Regions from separate parts of the Homo sapiens genome. Here all the other regions are reported to be linked to region 1. Evidence: microRNA targets listed by miRTarBase, many of them from high-throughput screens and not tested one by one. Region 1 holds a microRNA gene; each other region holds the end of a gene's coding sequence. Distances are from middle to middle.
Evidence for each region. The annotated mature microRNA hsa-miR-3120-5p reads CCUGUCUGUGCCUGCUGUACA and lies in region 1 at 1,507-1,527, opposite strand. An mRNA with a match to its seed (bases 2 to 7 or 8) in the 3' UTR can be bound and repressed. Matches are read on the target gene's strand: a 7mer-m8 pairs with bases 2 to 8, a 7mer-A1 pairs with bases 2 to 7 and ends in A, and an 8mer does both.

Region 2: the mRNA of NXN is a reported target of hsa-miR-3120-5p. The part of its 3' UTR that is shown has no 7-base or 8-base seed match.
Region 3: miRTarBase lists ZNF555 as a target of hsa-miR-3120-5p. Seed matches in the 3' UTR shown: 7mer-A1 at 3,351-3,357.
Region 4: miRTarBase lists ARSD as a target of hsa-miR-3120-5p. Seed matches in the 3' UTR shown: 7mer-A1 at 3,280-3,286 and 7mer-A1 at 2,342-2,348.
Region 5: the mRNA of TNFAIP8L2 is a reported target of hsa-miR-3120-5p. Seed matches in the 3' UTR shown: 7mer-A1 at 634-640 and 7mer-A1 at 662-668.

What each region holds. Positions count from the first base shown.
Region 1 is chr1:172,136,656-172,140,346 of GRCh38, reverse strand. It overlaps MIR3120 (microRNA 3120), which reads right to left and starts at 1,539; the gene lies at 1,459-1,539. All of the region lies in intron 14 of DNM3 (dynamin 3), which reads right to left. DNM3OS (DNM3 opposite strand/antisense RNA) reads left to right here. Exons shown (of 4, transcript NR_103486.1): 4 at 1-3,468. It overlaps MIR214 (microRNA 214), which reads left to right and starts at 1,440; the gene lies at 1,440-1,549.
Region 2 is chr17:798,092-801,782 of GRCh38, reverse strand. It overlaps NXN (nucleoredoxin), which reads left to right. Exons shown (of 8, transcript NM_022463.5): 8 at 652-2,473. The coding sequence ends at 834. Among named protein-coding and RNA genes, the nearest start is that of MRM3, 18 kb to the right of the region's middle.
Region 3 is chr19:2,852,874-2,856,564 of GRCh38, forward strand. ZNF555 (zinc finger protein 555) reads left to right here. Exons shown (of 4, transcript NM_152791.5): 4 at 1-3,691. The coding sequence ends at 1,079. Among named protein-coding and RNA genes, the nearest start is that of ZNF556, 13 kb to the right of the region's middle.
Region 4 is chrX:2,903,830-2,907,520 of GRCh38, forward strand. It overlaps ARSD (arylsulfatase D), which reads right to left. Exons shown (of 10, transcript NM_001669.4): 10 at 143-3,691. The coding sequence ends at 3,442. It overlaps ARSD-AS1 (ARSD antisense RNA 1), which reads left to right and starts at 1,075. Exons shown (of 2, transcript NR_144459.1): 1 at 1,075-1,376; 2 at 1,739-2,293.
Region 5 is chr1:151,158,986-151,162,676 of GRCh38, forward strand. It overlaps TNFAIP8L2 (TNF alpha induced protein 8 like 2), which reads left to right. Exons shown (of 2, transcript NM_024575.5): 2 at 1-764. The coding sequence ends at 267. All of the region lies in intron 1 of TNFAIP8L2-SCNM1 (TNFAIP8L2-SCNM1 readthrough), which reads left to right. It overlaps LYSMD1 (LysM domain containing 1), which reads right to left. Exons shown (of 3, transcript NM_212551.5): 2 at 2,751-3,115; 3 at 763-2,035. The coding sequence ends at 1,897. Among named protein-coding and RNA genes, the nearest start is that of TNFAIP8L2-SCNM1, 4.2 kb to the left of the region's middle.

The DNA.
Region 1 (3,691 bases):
TTTTTGATTCTGTCAAGAAAAAAAAAAAGTTCCTTTACTCGAAAGTGATGGCCGAAACAGAATCGGAAATTTGTTTTCTTGAAATTACATAAATACACAGAAAATGGCACTTATTAGCTTTTGTTAAAACATTACCTTACCTAATCACTGCATAAAAGTCCAGATTTGTAGAAAATTGTAATTTTCTCAGTATCTAAAACTATTTTGCTTTCCATTAAGTTTCTATTTGCTATTTTCTCAGAATTTTACAATTAAAGATAAATCACAAACTGTTTGTTTTTCTTAAAGTTCTTTGAGAAAATGTCTAATTATACAATCCTTGGACAATACTGTGTTTTTTTGGTGCTGTGTTTTTTAAGAAGTCCTACTTACTGGAATTTTGACTATTTGGATATTTTTGTTTTTAAAAGGGGAGGGGAATTTGCTTAATACTTCTAAAGATGTGAATTGATAATTGATATTAAAATAGAATTACTCTCAACTCACCAGAATTAAATTTTATATCTGCATATTTAACACTATTAGCTCATATAAATTATAAGAAAAATTTTCAAAGGATCTGGTTTTAATTTTTTGGATATGAAATGAATTTGCCTTTTCTGCCTTTTCTTAAGTACTATTTTGTAACTATATTGCACTAACTATATCCAAAACACATTCTGAGCATCACTGTGAGTAACAGCCTTCCAGTTTGTACCCTTTTGATTCACAGCATGGCCCTATAGTTAATTAAGAGGTGGATAACTTAAGCTCACAACTGCCTTTAATTTGATTTCACATCCACAGTTATAAACTTTGCATTTAAAAGGAAAATGAGACATTTAAATAGGTTCCTGTTGTTTCACATATAATTGGTAAAAACATATTCCCTTGTAGGATCCTATTATCAGAGCATCAAATACCAAAGTCAGCAACTTGGGTTGCCAAATAAATTAGGCTCATTAATTATTTTGAAAAGGGCTGCTGTTTCCATGTAAATGATAATTTTCTTTTTCATGGACAAGGTTATGGTACTTATCTACTAAAAGAAACATGCATAAACATAGTTTTTATCTTTAACTTCAGTATTAAAATATGCAGTTTTTTGCAAAGAGGAAAAACATCTGGTTCAATTACGCTGAACTCTGACTACATGTGGGCCAGTAATAATATGAATTGGACTTAAGAATAAACCTTGTGTTTAATCTCTTTTTTTCCTTAAAATTTTAATGTGAGTTTTCTGTTACGCAAATTATCCATGTTAGCACATTTGGAACAAATGTATAAATGTACTTTCTGAATAAAGTCAAAAGTCTAACTTGTTTTTAGTTCCATAATGTTTTAATGTTTAATTATATTGTGTATTTTTCTCCCTTTCCCCTTACTCTCCAAAATCACCAAATCTGGAAAACAGGCTGATTGTATCTGTCTATGAGCAAAGGAAACCTGAAGGAACCAAGGGCCTGGCTGGACAGAGTTGTCATGTGTCTGCCTGTCTACACTTGCTGTGCAGAACATCCGCTCACCTGTACAGCAGGCACAGACAGGCAGTCACATGACAACCCAGCCTGAATGACAACCAGCCATTGAAAGAAAGCAGCCCTCACACCATAGCATCTACACCAAGAGCTACAACCAAAATGAGGGGCTCGGGGGCCTGGGGTTTTAATCTGTTGGTTTAATACTTAACTCATGTATTATTTTATTTTGATTCAAGTATTAAAACCCACCAAAAGTAAAGTGAGTGGTGCCTATGAAATATAATAAAACCCATTTCTGAAAATGTTCCTGTGCATTCTATAGTTCTCTTTTCCTAATTGTTGTCAGCAAATCACTACCCTTGACCTTTATTGTACACAGCTTTGCAGCACCCTATATTGATATAAAAACTCAATATAACAAAACAATATAACTTCAGTCTGATGCTTAACAAAGAATAAATTATTCTAAGAATTCTTGTCCATAAACTAAGTATGGTTTTCTATGTCATGATTTTTTTTTTTTTTTTTTTTTTTTGGAAGGGGATAGGGTGGAAAGACAGAGAAAAGAAAAGGGAGAAAAAGAGTATTCCAAAGGATCAAGTGCTTTGAGTTAACTCTGCCAGTCTGGGTTAACTCTGCCAGTCTGGGTCTGGGCAAAACACAGTGAAAAGACTACTATTTCCAACTAGTGTTCAACTATATTAAAATAATAGTTTCTCCTCTTTTGACATATGGAAAGTTGAAATTTTTGATACTTCCACGCGTCATGGTATACATAAATTTATGACTGCGTCATTCTTTAATTAAGAAGGTGCTTATGCTACAGTTCTAGGAGTAGAATTTACAAGGCCAACACATTCACTTGCAACCTATGCTTCCATCACTATAAACTTTCAAGATCTTGAGATGTTCAGGCAATTCATTTATCTTCAGAAGCATAAGGAAAGTGGTTAATGCACTTGAAATGTATATTTTGACACATCTTTTGAGAAAATATCCAAACTTCAGTTTATGCACTGTTAACTGGAGTGAAATGATAAGGGATGGCTTTTGTCTATGAATACTTTAAATACTTAAGGGTAAAAGGTGGGAAGATGGATAAAATTAGAAATGTGTCAACTTTTATTTAGTTCATTAACATGTTTTAGCTTCAGTATTTGAAATTAATTTTCATCTTTCTTAGATTCTGGTCAAGCTTAAAAAATGTAACACAAGGCTACTCAAAACTTTTTTCACATTTAACAATTAAACACTTTATGTATGTATTCTTAACTAAAGCAAACTATTTTTCATTCAGCTATTTTATTTTTAAAATGAAAGTCTCAGTCTTAAAGCTAAGATCCCAGTGAGTTTCAAATTTTCTGACAATGATATTTTAACCAAACCTGACATTATAGTTTCTTTAATTAAAAAACTGAATGATGGGGCAAAACTACAAAGCACAAATATGATTAAAGTTAAATTTCTCTCATTTAAACAATCTTGTCTTATGGCAATATGTCATCTGCTAAAATTCATCTCTGCTTCTGCAAGATACATTGCACGATGCAGATTTTTGCCTTAAATAAAAGTCCCATTACTAGCAAATAAAGTCCTAAACAATACTTACAAAATGTAGAATATAAACAGGAAGACAATATAAAAATTACTCACAGAATATCGACATCGTTCTACCCAATCTTAAATGCCTTGTACCACCTGTTGCAAATGCTGCCTATGAGAGTTCACGTATGGAATTATTCTACTGGACCCTGCAAGGCTCAGGAGAGTGCTTGACAGCTCCCAGAATGAGACAATGACCTAGCCAGAACATTAAGGAGACTACACCCGTCCTTCAGACTCCAAAGGGAAAGCTAGGACGGCAGCAGAGTCATCCTAAGGTGAGGCACTCCAGGATAACATTTTCAATATTTTTCCTTAAAACATAAAGTTAACACCTTTTTTGTTAAACATTTTTTACTCAATTTTCAAAAAAAATGCTTGAAAGAATGTTTTGTATGTATTTTAAAGTCATTAAATGAGGCACATTTAAAAATTTTTCTCTTCTGGGAAAGGGTAATATAAAGGATAATATTGCTCTTCCAGGATAAACTTTTGAGTGGGACAAATAATGCATATAGGGGAGTGGGTTTGAATCTAAACTCATTTTTAATAAATTTGGAATAGGATTGGCCATTATGGTTTATTGAATAATACTCTTTTTTTCAAAATTATAAATCTTTAGATAATAC
Region 2 (3,691 bases), not on the chromosome of region 1:
TGGTTACAAAAATAAACAATCAGAGGCTATGACATTTCTAGACTGGCACGGTGGCTGACGCCTGTAATCCTAGCACTTTGGGAGGCCAAGGTAGGCGGATCACCTGAGGTCAGGAGTTGGAGACCAGCCTGACCAACATGGTGAAACCCCGTCTCTACTAAAAATGTAAAAAATTAGCCGGGCGTGGTGGGCGCCTGTAGTCCCAGCTACTCAGGAGGCTGAGGCAGGAGAATTGCTTAAACCCGGGAGGTGGAGCTTGCAGTGAGCCGAGATCGTGCCACTGCACTCCAGCCTGGGTGACAGAGCGAGACTCCATCTCAAAAAAAAAAAAAAAAAAAAGAATGTGACATTTCTAAAATGCTGAGGACGTATTAAAATGGTGTTGATGCTAATAAATACATAAATAATTAAATACAGACGACTTACCTAGTGGTTTGCAGGGCGGATGCAAAGAGAGAATTTTACAAAGCAGCCCCTTCCTCCGGAAGGCAGGGCAGGGTTCCCTCCTTCCCAGGCTGGGAGCCCTCTGCTTGGGAAACGCCGGCTCTTCAGGGTGCGGGAGCTACCACACCTGGGGAGACTGGGCCCAGGGGACTCTCCCCCTCCTTTCTTTAAAACTTCTTGGTTTTCTCTCCCTCCTGACGGCTTCAGGATGACATGACTGACTCCCTGCGAGATTACACCAACCTGCCTGAGGCTGCCCCTTTGCTCACCATCCTGGACATGTCAGCCCGGGCCAAGTACGTGATGGACGTGGAGGAGATCACCCCCGCCATCGTGGAGGCCTTTGTGAATGACTTCCTAGCAGAGAAGCTCAAACCGGAGCCCATCTAGCGTGGCTCCGGCCTCCTGAGACGTTATTTAAAACTCAGCCTTCTCCTCCTCCCCCTCCTTCCTTCCGCCCTTGGACTTACCCAGCGTGCCCCGAATCCCACCACCCAAGTGTCCAGCCTCTCTGTGGTGCCTTGTTTCTGCAGTAAACTCCTCAGCCAGCACCCTGGGGTGTGGAATCAGCAGCGGCAGAGTCCACCGTGTTTGGAGACTCTGTTTGGGAGCACGGGATGGCCGGGGGCCCGGCCAGAGCGGGGCTGCATGGCTTTCGCAAAGTCACTAGCTTTTGGTGAAGGATCTGCCAGGGTGTCCTGGGCAGAGTGAGCGTGGAGGGCCGGTGGGTCCCGCTCGGGCTCTGACTCTGACGTCGGCACACACGGCCCCGGACGGCCAGAGGGGAACCGCCGGGTGACACCTGCGTGGAGGCTGAGCTGAGAAAGGGCCTCCGCTTAGAGCTGCGGGTGAGGACGTCCTTTTCTAAGCAACACAGTCTTCCTCGGTCTGAGAGAAAAGCAGCCCACTCTTGTGTTCTCAGGCAGGGGATCTCCAAATGCAAAAGGAAGCTTGTAGAGGTTTTTTGGGTGAGAAGAAAAATGTAGCTAAGGTAATGGTTCATATCATACAAACAGCTCCCACGATCCTGAAATTCTGTTAACGAATCCTTCTCTTTGGACATCTTCCCAAGAAACTTAGCCCTGAGTCCTAGGAGGAGCACCTCTGCACCAGCACGGACCTCTCGCTCCACCCAGCTCTGTGCCCAAGGCCCCTGATCTCTGCTGAGGTGCCCACACCCACGTTCGATCACCCCTGCCATTCCCTTTTATTTTCTTTTTTTTGAGATGGAGTCTTGCTCTGTCGCCCAGGCTGGAGTGCAGTGGCACCATCTTGGCTCACTTCAACCTCCGCCCCCAAGGTTCAAGTGATTCTCCTGCCTCAGCCTCCCGAGTAGCTGGGATTACAGGCACCCGCCACCGTACCTGGCTAATTTTTGTATTTTTAGTAGAGATGGGGTTTCACCATGTTGGCCAGGCTGGTCTCGAACTCCTGACCTCAGGTGATCCACCCGCCTCGGCCTCCCAAAGTGCTGGGATTACAGGCGTGAGCCGCCGTGCCCGGCCCCCTTTTCTTTTCAAAGCAGAACTACAAAGATGAGAAATTACCAGAAGCCTCGCCTTTTCCTAAGCACCAGCGGAAGGAGCTGTGCCCCGGGATGGAGTGAGGGTGGAGGGCGCGTCAGCCACGGGTGGGCCTTGTGTCGCCTTGTATCGGCCCAGGTAGGTTGTTGGCCTCTTACTTGGGCTGACCTGACCCCCGAAAGAGAAACAGACAACTCTGTTCTCAGGATTGGGGATGGACGGCTTCGGCCAAGCGTTTTAGCCTCATTCACTCAGGCCCCACTCAGCACTCTGCCAGCCAAGACCATTGATTTGGAAAATCCGGTCCCCACCCGCTAATGAGCTGTTGACACTGTTGTTCCTTGCTGAATTGGATTGTTGACTTGTAGTTCAGAGGCGTACAACTAGTTGGCGATTAGACTTGTTATGTGATGTTACCAGCCTGAAATGCGATCACCCCGTAGGAAATAAAGCAGGCATCTCTGGACCTCATCCACCCTGGGCCTCTGCTGTCCTTGATCACAAAAGTTGTTTTTGCTTGTGGTCCTGTGCTCTATCGGGGTGGGCAGTGGAGGATACCTGGTAGCTGGGAGCTGAGTCCCAGGAGTTTTGAGACCCCCAGGATGTAGCATCTGTCACATCCTCTTGGCTTCCGGCAGCCAGGAAGCTCATTTGGATGACCGTGGCAGAGGCAGATCCCTCCTGCAGCCCTGGCCACCGTCTCTCCTGGTTTGACTTGGCCCTGGACGGAGGGTGAATCCTCAGATCGCGTACCTTGCTGTGGACATTCTTGCCCATTTCCTCCCTCCAGGGGAGCCGAGTCCTCTGAAGCCTGAGAAAGCTGGTTGGGAGAACAGGAGGAATCACGCACGGGTCTCCTTGTGAAGAATGGGCCAAGTGTGGGAGCCTCTTAAACCCAGCAGGTCCCAGGCTCAAGGCTTCTCTGGGAACGCTGCCAGAGTCTCCCTTAGGGGTCGGGGTGGGTGGGATGAATGTGGCCGACCTGAATGTGGGAGGTGGCAGGATTTCTCTCCATGTATCATGATGGCCTCGGAGGAAAGGTGGGTTCTCTTAGCAGCTGCTTACCTTTGGGGCAGGAGGAACAAAGTCCAGCGAGGGGGTTGCCCTAAGTCATTGCAACTGGATTCTTGACACCAGAATTCCCCTTTTAGAGTGGGTCTGTAGCTTCCTTAAGACCCGTGGGGAAGGTTTACTCCAAAGGTTCAGGTTTATACAGTGACTGCTTTGCGGGAAACCGTTAGGGAAGAATCACTTCTGAGTGTCAGGGATCGATAGTGAGAGGTCGTAAAGGCCACAGATGCAGGCGAAGTGGGTGGCATGATAATCCCCGCCAAGCAGCTCCACCTTCAGATTCTTGTTGCTAATTGGAAGCAGGTTCAGCACCAGCTGTGGCATATTCAAGGGCTTCCTCCGGCAGCCAGGAAAACCAGGCCCTGCAGGTGGAGGCTGGGGGCGGCTGTGAAAACGCCACTCTGTGGTTCCCAGATTTGTGTTTACCACAGTGACTTCCAGATCCCATCCATTCATCCTCACAACAGCGATGAGGGTTTTTTTTTTTTTTTTTTTTTGAGACAGAGTCTCGCTCTGTCGCCCCGGCTAGAGTGCAGTGGCACGATCCCAGCTCACAGGTTCAAGCCATTCTCCTGCCTCAGTCTCCCAAGTAGCTGAGATTACAAGCGACACCACCGCGCCTGACTAATTTTTGTATTTTTAGTAGAGACGGG
Region 3 (3,691 bases), not on the chromosome of region 1:
CGTTTCGAAGACACACAATAACACACACTGGCGAGAAGCCATATAAATGTAAGGAATGTGCGGAAGCCTTTAGTTATTCCTCAACTTTTCGAAGACATATGATTTCACACACTGGAGAGAAGCCACATAAATGTAAAGAATGTGGGGAGGCCTTCAGTTATTCTTCGGCTTTTCGAAGACACATGATAACACACACTGGAGAGAAACCCTACGAATGCAAACAATGTGGGAAAACCTTCATTTATCTCCAGTCCTTTCGAAGACATGAAAGGATTCACACTGGAGAGAAACCCTACGAATGCAAACAGTGTGGGAAGACCTTCATTTATCCCCAGTCCTTTCGAAGACATGAAAGGACTCATGGTGGAGAGAAACCCTATGAATGCAACCAGTGCGGGAAAGCATTCAGTCACCCCTCCTCCTTTCGAGGACACATGAGGGTGCACACTGGAGAGAAACCCTATGAGTGCAAGCAATGTGGGAAAACTTTCAATTGGCCCATATCTTTACGAAAACATATGAGAACACATACTAGAGAGAAACCCTATGAATGTAAGCAGTGTGGGAAAGCCTTCAGCTTGTCTGCTTGCTTTCGAGAACATGTGAGAATGCACCCTGAAGACAAATCCTATGAATGCAAGCTATGTGGGAAAGCTTTCTATTGCCACATATCCTTACAAAAACATATGAGAAGACATACCGCAGAGAAACTCTATAAATGCAAGCAGTGTGGGAAAGCTTTCAGTTGGCCTGAACTTTTGCAACAACATGTGAGAACGCACACTGTAGAGAAGCCCTATGAATGTAAGGAATGTGGGAAGGTCTTCAAATGGCCATCATCTTTACCAATACATATGAGACTGCACACTGGAGAGAAACCTTATCAATGTAAGCATTGTGGGAAAGCATTCAATTGTTCCTCATCCTTAAGGCGACATGTGAGAATACACACTACAGAAAAACAGTATAAGTGTAATGTAGGACATCCTCCTGCAAATGAATTCATGTGCAGTGCTTCAGAAAAGTCACACCAGGAGAGAGATCTGATCAAAGTTGTAAATATGGTGTTGCCTTTATGAGTTCCTTATCCTGAAAGTGGACACTCAAGGAGTGTGTCTGTAGTTCATTTGCAAATAAACATTTAGTTGAAAAATAATTCTCCAAATACTCTCAGCTATCCTACATGAATTTGAACAGGTAGTTTCTTACGATTCAGTAAATAAAACTTTCATCTTAGAGTGTTTTGGACTCATGGATGATTTGAAGTGTATTTTTAATATGCAAGTAGGTTCAAGTTTTATTTAATTTCTTAAATTGTAACTGACTTAGTGTGACAGGTATTGGATATTACGTATCTATTATATTTTCCACCTTTTTTACTGGGAGTATTTTTATTGTTTGGCCAGAGGAGCCTTATTCCATTTTTTAAGAAGTAGTTGGCAGAATTTTGTAATTATGCAAAGTTGTTTAAGGAGTATAGCCTCAAATGAATTGTAATTTTTAATGTTTGCCCATTGCTGTTTGTCTTTGCTTGTGATTGTGAATTGGACAGTAGGCTTTGACTTGTGATGTGACGGAGAAATCCAGAGTTGCAGATAGTTCTTCTGCATTGTTGTCAGTGTGGGTAGTGTTAGGAACTTCATTTGCTGGAATGCATTTCCTTTATGGTTCCATGTCCAAATTTACCAATAGCAATAACTTGAATGAAATTTAGAATGAAGAAGAAGTAAGTCATCGCTGAGCTTTTGGGGTCACATTAAATGGAGATGGACAGATGCATAGGGGCTTTGTGAACATCAACCTTCAGCTTATTTTCCAGATTCTTATTCCTGCCAATCAAGAGTACCATCAAAAGAAACACTTAAGTGCTTGATTTCCACTGTGTCAGAGGTGTAGTCTTCCTCAGACATCTCCATTAACTTGATATTAGGGATATTCCTGTGTGGTCAGTCACCTAGAGTCTGGATTTTTCTCAAAACCCTGCATGACCTCTTGACCACTGATTCAGACTGTCTTGTTTGGCAGTCTCTGAGCTTCTGATTCTCCCGTTCTGTAGATCTTAACATATTTGCATGGGGTCTAATTTATATAGTGAACACCTTGTTATCTTAATACTTCCAGTGGCTCTGTGATCCTGATTCCACCACGAAAGCCACAGTGTTGCAGTCAAAGAAGAAAAACAACACATGGGACTTTGTACCCTATTGCATTTTTAAGTGTGCCTGCCGAGTCCTATGTGAGAACAAATACCTTCCTCATATATTAGATTTAGGGAGATTTCTGTTACTCAGAACTAAATGCAGTTTCTTGATATAGGTTAAATTATTAGGTTTGATTATGTATCATTAAAAATAATGTGGATTTTGTTTCAAGGAAAACCTTCTGTAGATATTTCTTAGAAATATCCTGTTTAGCTGGGCACAGTAGCTCATGCCTGTAATCCCTGCACTTTGGGAGGCTTGAGGTCAGGAGTTTGAGACCAGCCTGGTTAACATGGTGAAACCCTGTCTCTACTAAAAACACAAAAATTAGCCAGGCATGGTGGTGAGTACCTGTAACCCCAGCTACTTGGGAGGCTGAGACAGGAGAAGTGCTTGAACCTAGGAGGCGGAGGTTGCAGTGAGCCAAGATCACACCACTGCACTCCAGCCTGGGAGACGGGGAAAGACTCCATCACACAAGCAAGAAAAGAAAAAAAAATCCTATTTACTGTGCTTTCAAATTAGTTGTTTAGAGACTATATTAATTTCCCAGGGCTGCCATAACAAAGTACAAAAACTGGGTGACATAGGAAAACAAACTTTTTGTTTCTCAGTTCTGGACCCAGAAATCCAGAAACAAGGCATTGGCAGGACCATGCTTTTTCTGAAGATGCTAGGGAAGGATCTGTTTCAGAACTCACCTAGCTTCTGGTAGTTCCTTAGCTTGTGGCAGCATAACTCTAATTTTCACATGGCATTCTCCCTGTGTGTGTGTCTCTCCATGTGACAATATTTTTATACATACACACCACTCATTGGGTTAGGCCCCACTCTACTTCAGTATGATTTTACCTTAACTAATTACATTGGCAACAGCTCTCTTTTCGCATACTGAGGCACCGCGAATTAAGATTTCAACGTAAAAATTTTAGGAGACCCAATTCAACCCATAACACTAAGAAATGTTATTTTTTGTTTACCGAGAGAATTACAGATTTCAAATCAACTTTGTAATTTTGATAATTTAAGCATGTTACATTTTGAATCAGTATTACCAAGTATATACAAATACAGGTATTTTTTCATATAAATGTTATTTTTAATTGCTGTATACTTAACATTTGCCATTAAAATGATTTTTTTTTTTTGAGACAGAGTCTCGCTCTGTCACCCAGGCTGGAGTGCAGTGGCACGACCTTAGCTCACTGCAACCTTCATCTCCCAGGTTCAGTTGATTCTCCTGCCTCAGCCTCCCGAGTAGTTGGGATTACAGGCATGCACCACCACACCCAGCTAATTTTTTTATTTTTGGTAGAGATGGGGTTTCACCATGTTGGCCAGGCTGGTCTTGAACTCCTGACCTCAGGTGATCTGCCCACCTTGGCCTCCCAAAGTGTTGGGATTACAGGCATGAGCCACCACACCCGGCCTAAAATGATTTCTTATTTGTGGTTAATAACAATTAAAAAGCGGAAATAATGGTTTTGTCA
Region 4 (3,691 bases), not on the chromosome of region 1:
GGGAGTTTGGATTGTTTAGTCCTCTCTCCATGAATAGTGAATAGCAATGCCAGGTGAGTTCCTTCAAAGCTGGGGGGTGAAGGGGTGGAGGTGGAAAAGTAGGATTGAGGATGGGAAATAAAAACAAACAAATGACACCATCCAGGGAGATTTGTCACATTTTATTCAGTATTTCTGCTGCACTGCCAGCCTAGGGATGCACTTGATTCCCAAGAAATGCAACTGTCCTATTCGCAGAGCCGTCCACAGGTACCTACCCCCTGGACTGCAGCAACTTTATTACCTTAACTAGCACAGAACAGAGGTTGATTTAAACTCCTTACACTCACTTCTCAGATCAATGAATGGGCAAAGAAACACCTCATGGCTCTGGGAAGGCATGCTGAGACCCGTTTTTGCAAGTCCTGAGGAATGGAAGAATATAGCTGCCAGGTATCCCAAGTCTAGGGCAGGGAGGGTAGTATCGGCATCACTTTCACTGCATTCTGTTGGTCAACGCAAGTCAGAGGCTCAGCCCAGATCCAAGGGCAGGGAAGAGGCTCCATCGTGTAGTTGGGCTCACTTGGAAGGTAATGGGAGGAGTTGGTGGCTGCTTTAAGACACATACCACATCTAGATTTCAACCTCCAGAAAAGTCCAAAGATGCACTCACAGGAGCCCGTTAGTCAACTGAAGCTGGTTCATGGCTCTCTTCTTCAGGTGGAGACTAACCAACTCCCTGACCTCCTTCGGTTAAGTGCTCCTTCCTTTTTCCTGCTGCCTGGAATGTCTATGTGCCATCTGGAGCTATGGCAGCCTTCTTGCAACCATGAGGCAAACTCTATGTGCAAGAGCAGGTAGCTAGAAAGAGCCTGCCAGCCCTGGGCTTATATCCTGCTTCCCAGGGAGCTTAAAGATAGCAAAACCCACAGCCATTTTCATCAAATGCCAGGAAATTCTTAGGCTGGGATTGTTGGGATTGTTTGAATGGTTGAGCGTGAAAGACTTGTTATAATGGGCTTGTTGAATACGGTGAAAGATGAGATGGCTTTTAGCTGCCTCCACTCCCCGTGTCCCATGCTCCATAGATGTTTCTTTTTTTTTTTTTTTTTAATCATTTTTTGGTTATGCCAGGTGTCTCCTGTGTGTCCCTCCAGATCCCTCTCCAGCCCTAGAAACCTGAGCTCTATAAATGTTGCCTCTCTCCACTCATCTTCTCTTTGGCTTCAGGTTGAGTTCAGCCAACAGATGCCCCTGTAGGATTTGGACACAGGGAGCCAGGGGAGAGGGGCATCAGCTGCCTGGTTAGCAGGGCTGTGATGATTCTTCTACCTATGACTCTCAGTGCTGTTGCCTCTTCCTCTGGATCTTGGAAGCTTCCATGCTGAGGTCTGAAGGTGGCTCCCTGCCTCCCACTGATGTCCTTAGAATCCCATCCTCACCTAATACCTGGTATTGAACACTGCCTTTCTTAGATGTCATTTAGGCTCTCGTTTCAATTCCCAGTATGCTTCCTGCAAAGACCTCGATAGATGGACTGAGGGGAATAGTGCAAGGTCCTCCCATCCCCAGTATTGGGATCTAGGGGCAGGGGGTCCCAGCTGTGCAGTAGGTTAGGACTACACTTCCATCATCAAAGCCACAGAGGGAAGAGGTGAGGATGAAACACACTAGAATTGACTTAGAAAACACACTGGCCAAATCTTAGCTATTTGAGGAATGTAGGGAGAAAAGCCACCTTCTCTCTCTATGTCTGAAGGTTCCCATGGCTGTCTCTTTGCCCAAGGGGCAAACTTTCCATCAGGGCATCTTCTGTGCCTCTGAGGATCATTTTCCAATTATAGGCAATGGTAGTACGTGTTTCAGTGCAGAATGAGATAGAGTTGTTTAATTTGACAATAAAGCGATGCGTCAAAAACCTCAGTCAACACAGTAAGTGTTTTCTTGTTTTCCTGCTGACCAACCTAATTCTGGTTTCATACAGGGCAGCCAGGTGCCCACCTAAAAGACTGCACTTCTCAACTTCCAGTTGTTTCTATGGATAATGGTTGGAAGCAGAAATTGGGTTGGGGCTTCCAGATAATCCCCCCTCACAGGGACTGCTTCAAGAGAAAGGGATGCCCTTTGGTTCTTTCTCCTTTCCACTGCCTGGAATGTGATGTCTGACACTGTGGCAGCCATACTGGCATAATGAGGCCAACTCTCTGCCATGCTAAGAGTGGCAGAGCTGGGAATTGAAAAGAGCCTGCTAGCCTTGGGTTGCTTCCCCTTGATCGGCTCATTACTTGGAAGAGAACACACCCTTCTCTTATTATTTTCTTTAAGGCATTTTTTTTTTTTTTTTTTTAAGGCAGGGTCTTACTCTGTCTCCCAGCCCGGAGTGCAGTAGTGCAATCTTAGCTCATTGCAGTTTTGACCTCCCAGGCTCAAATAATCCTCCCGCCTCAGCCTCCTAAGTAGCTGAGACTACAGCTGTGCGCCACGACATCTAGCTAATTATTTGTTTTTTGTAGAGATGAGGTCTCACTGTGTTGCTCAGGCTGGGTAGGTGTCTAACTCCTAGGCTCAAGTGATCCTCCCACCTTAGCCTCCCAAAGTGCTGGGATTACAGGTGTGAGTCACCGTGCCTGGCTTTGTTTAAGGCATTCTTTTTCCGCAGCATCTGTTACCAGCAGCCTGAAGCCATTTCTATAACAATATCAGGAAGACACATGGACAGAGACCCTAATGTATGAAAAATGCATCAATTATTTGAGATTAATGAGTCCTCATAAACAGAGACTGAGAGGCTCTAACTTTCCTCCGCTATGTGAGAGTAGGAACAGACACTCCTCCCTGTCCTTTTGTAAGGCTGTTATGTCATCTAGGTGATGAAATTGCAACAATGCTTTAAGACGGAGGGGTGAAAACATCGGGCATTGGCACAATGACGAACCCTGAGATTTAGAAGAGGAAGAGGAGGCATCAGTGGGTGCCTACTGGGACAGTCTTATTTCACAAATCAGGAAAGGGAAACCCTACATGGGCGCAGTGGCTCGTGCCTGTAATCCCAGCACTTTGGGAGGCTGAGGCAGGTGGATGACTTGAGGTCAGGAGTGCGAGACCAGCCTGGGCAACATGGTGAAACCCTGTCTCTACTAAAACTACAAAAATTAGCTAGGCATGGTGGCAGGTGCCTGGTGCCTGTAATCCTGGGTACTCAGGAGGCTGAGGCAGGAAAATCGCTTGAACCCGGGAGGCGGAGGTTGCAGTGAGCAGAGATCGTGCCATTGCATTCCAGCCTGAGGGACAGAGCGACACTCTGTCTCAAAAAAGAAAGAAAGAAAGAAAGAAAGTGGGGACCCACTCTCAGTCCAGGGCATGTTCCTTGCAAAAAGGGAAGCTGAAGATAGAACCAAGCTTGGAGAATTTTGTTTGCAACGCAGTCAGGCTCTCCTGGATCCTCTCTCACAGTCCTGGCATTCAGGGGGTGCCATCCCCATCCTCGTGGCATGAACAGAACGGGAAATGTCCGCAGCACGGCTGCAGCCACGGCTTCCACAGGATGTTGCTCATGGAAAACTGCTGGGGCACAGGACTCAGGGTCTGCCGATGCTCCGACACCGCGGCACCTACCCTTGCTATCACGGCGTGGTACAGGGGCTCGGAGTCGGGGGTCAGGGGCCGTGCCTCGGAGGGGTCCCTGGAGAGGTCAAAGAGCAAAGGGGGTCTG
Region 5 (3,691 bases), 21 Mb from region 1:
GGTGCCATGACGGCACTTAGCTTTGGTGAGGTAGACTTCACCTTCGAGGCTGCTGTTCTGGCTGGCCTGCTGACCGAGTGCCGGGATGTGCTGCTAGAGTTGGTGGAACACCACCTCACGCCCAAGTCACATGGCCGCATCCGCCACGTGTTTGATCACTTCTCTGACCCAGGTCTGCTCACGGCCCTCTATGGGCCTGACTTCACTCAGCACCTTGGCAAGATCTGTGACGGACTCAGGAAGCTGCTAGACGAAGGGAAGCTCTGAGAGCCCTGAGCCTAGCACATTCCACCTTGACAAAATGGTTGACTGAGAAAACACAGATAATGGGCTTCCTAACCCTGCTCACCTGGCACTAACACTTTTCAATCTTCAGGCTTCATTCCTTCCCAAGAGTGCTTTTGACTCTGAGACCAGCCCACCCCCAAACAGCTAGTGGAGAAGGAGCAATGCTGAGGGGTGAGGCCTCTCTCCCACTCCAGCCCCAGGACAGGAAACAGAACTGCCTGAAAAAGGTGAAGTGAAACTTGGATCTCTATTTCTCCCATAAGGGACTTCTGAAACAGGGAAGCCCCCTCCCATGTGAACCAAGGAAAGGAGGCACAGCCCAGAGAACCCCTTTGGGGATACTAAAGACAGAAGAGGGGAAGGTGGCCCTTAGAGACAGAGCTTGGACAGATGCCAGAGGCTCTGTTCCAGAGTGCAGGAAGAAGGGGCTAGGGCAGGGGAGATTCTCATAGGGGAAATAAAACTACTAAAATATGCACAGGGCTCAATGTTTAATCTGTCCAGCTTCGTATACCTTATAATCATCACAGAAGAAAGGAGGTATATAAACATTACTTATCTCACCTCTCATCATTTCCAAACAGGAGACTGAGGCAGATTTCCATTATTACTGAGGTTCCCTTACCTACTTCTGTTTAAGAAACAAAACAACTGTACCATAGATCAGTGCTACAAATCGCAAATAAATATGCAGTGAGGAGGAAGGCATAGAGAGAGAGGGTCTGGAGGGGAGGGGGTGTAACAAAGAGACTCCCACAACTGGCTTCCTCTTCAAACCCCAAGGAAAGCCTTCTTCCATCTGTTCCCCTCACCACAGGCTGAGCAGAACAGGTCAGAAGGGTGAACTGGTAGAATGGAGAGTTCAGGTCCCTACAGTGCTGCTTTTTCTCAGAGTCAAGAATTGTGAAAAAGTTACAGGGAATTGGTTTGTCAAGACTGAGCCCATTCAACAGGAATGGGGTACCAAAAAAAAAAAAAAAAAGAATCAGCCCAAATCTGTCACTTTGAGATTGGAGAAAAGGCCAACAGTCATCCATTCTCTGTGGTGGGCTATATCACCGATTGCCTCATCCTCAATAACATGTTTGGCTAACAAGGTGGGGAAAGTGGAGAACCAGCAGTCACTGGCTCACTGTTCCCGGGTTCTCCTCACCCCAGGGCTATAGAAATTCCATTTTTCAGCTAAGAGTGGGAAGAAATAAAATATAGCAAATAAATATTACTTCAATATTAGCACCAAATAAATTATGTCACATAGTTGGAGATGAGGAAGAAGCTGAGGGGGAGTCTCTGCTTCCCTGTTCTAAGGCCAGGGAAAGGTAAAAAGGATAGGAAAGGCAACAAGGATATAAAAAGAGCCTTTTGAGTCTAAAGGACTCAACTCTAGATTCAGCCCAAGAACTGGGAAAGGTCCAGTTCCCATTCCCTAATCTTGCCAATAAAACTGCCCCAGGCCAAGGAATTTTTGGCAGACAAGGAGGCTGGGGAGGATGGCTGGAGTGGAGGGAGGCAGGCTCATAAGCCATGTTCTTGAGCCTCACCTCAGGCTCCTCTCCCCCTGAAGTTTCTCTTTCAACATCTTGCTTCTCTCAGTCAGTTCTGGGGACATCAGAGTTTGAAGATTTCATCCTCCTGGTCCCGTAGTGTCCGGGTCCGAGAGGTACGGGTCAGCGGCACAGGACCTAGGACTGCTCGTTGCTGCATCCAAGGGGAGCTCAGGTGGAGACCTGCATCCTCCCCAGGTACCCTGCAATTGAGGAAAGGGGGGAAAGAGTGACAGATCAAGGGAAGAACCTGACAATGGGCCAAGTGAGAGGTACATGGAAAGCTATCTTCTAATACATAAGCTGGTTGCTTCAAGACAGTCTCAGTACCCTCTAGATAAATCCTAACCCTAATGCTCCTTCATGGATGATCAGAGCAGTAAAAACAGTTAACTGTCAGCTGGCCGCTGTGGCTCACGCCTGTAATTCCAGCACTTTGGGAGGCCGAGGCTGGCGGATCACGAGGTCAGGAGATTGAGATCATCCTGGCTAACATGGTGAAACCCCGCCTCTACTAAAAATACAAAATATTAGCCGGGCGTGGTGGCGGGCGCCTGTAGTCCCAGCTACTCGGGAGGCTGAGGCAGGAGAATGGCGTGAACCTGGGAGGCGGAGCTTGCAGTGAGCCAAGATCGCGCCACTGCACTCCAGCCTGGGCAACAGAGCAAGACCCCGTCTCAAAAAAAAAAAAAAATAGTTAACTGTCTGACTCCAATAAGAACACAGAACCCAGTTTTCCACTGCCTCTACCCAGGCCAGCAGCCATCACCTCTGCTCATTATCTTGGGGCCACATGGGGGAAAGGTATCACCTTGCCTCTGTTGGCACTGTCCTTACTTACTTGTGTTTGTGGTTAGGTAAGACAGGAATGATGGAGGAGTCTAGGGAGGAACTTATAAGGAACCATTCAAGACTCACCCATTTTCCCCTTTTTTCAGCTTCTGAGCAGCAGCCTTCTTGGACAGGCTGATCTGTGAATCAAGCTTCTTAAGGAAATCAGAGGCAGAGAGGTCATGGATGGGCGTGGGGGTTTCCTGGCCAGGTGTGGGGAGGACTTCACCATTGGCACGTCCTGCTCCTGTCTCTTGTTTCTTCCTCTCAGTTGAGTGTGGCCAAACTTCACTGTTACTTGGGTGTACTTTTTCCTCTCCATCTTTCTCTTCCTCAGAGTCCAAACCATTGAACAGGTCTCTGGGCTCTGTCAGGATGGGGATGTAGAGGGTTTTCTTCAGGAAGATGGAGTCATTAGTATAAAGGCGGTTTGCACGTTTAATCTGTTCCATCTTAAAAAAAAAAGTCACCAAAATTAAGGACAGTAATAATGATCAATCTTACATCTTGAGCTTTTTAAAGTGACTGTACAGAGTCTTCTTTGATTCCATAACAACCAAGCTAAAGTACAAAGGGCTGACATTATTTCTATTCTATAGATGAGTGGTTTTCACACTTTTTGGTCTTAGGGCCCCCTTACATTTTAAAAAATTATTGTGCAAGCCAGGCGCAATGTCTGATGCCTATAATTCCAGCTACTCAGGAGGCTGAGGAGGGAGGATAGCTTGAGCCCGGGAATTAGAGTCCAGCCTGAGTAATATAGTGAGACGCCATTTCTAAAAATTAAAAAATTAAAAATAAATGAATAAATAAATTAATGAATAAATAAAAATGAAGGAACTGAGGCTCAGAGAGGTTAAGCTACTTTCCTAAAATTATCTATCAAGTTAATGACAGAGCTAGAATGACAATCCTGGGTCTTTTCACTGCTTCTGAGAATGCTTTTCACACTATACTATTAACAATGTCATTAATAAATATTTATTTTGACCTATTTATTCATCACTGGACATAGTGACTGGCATCAC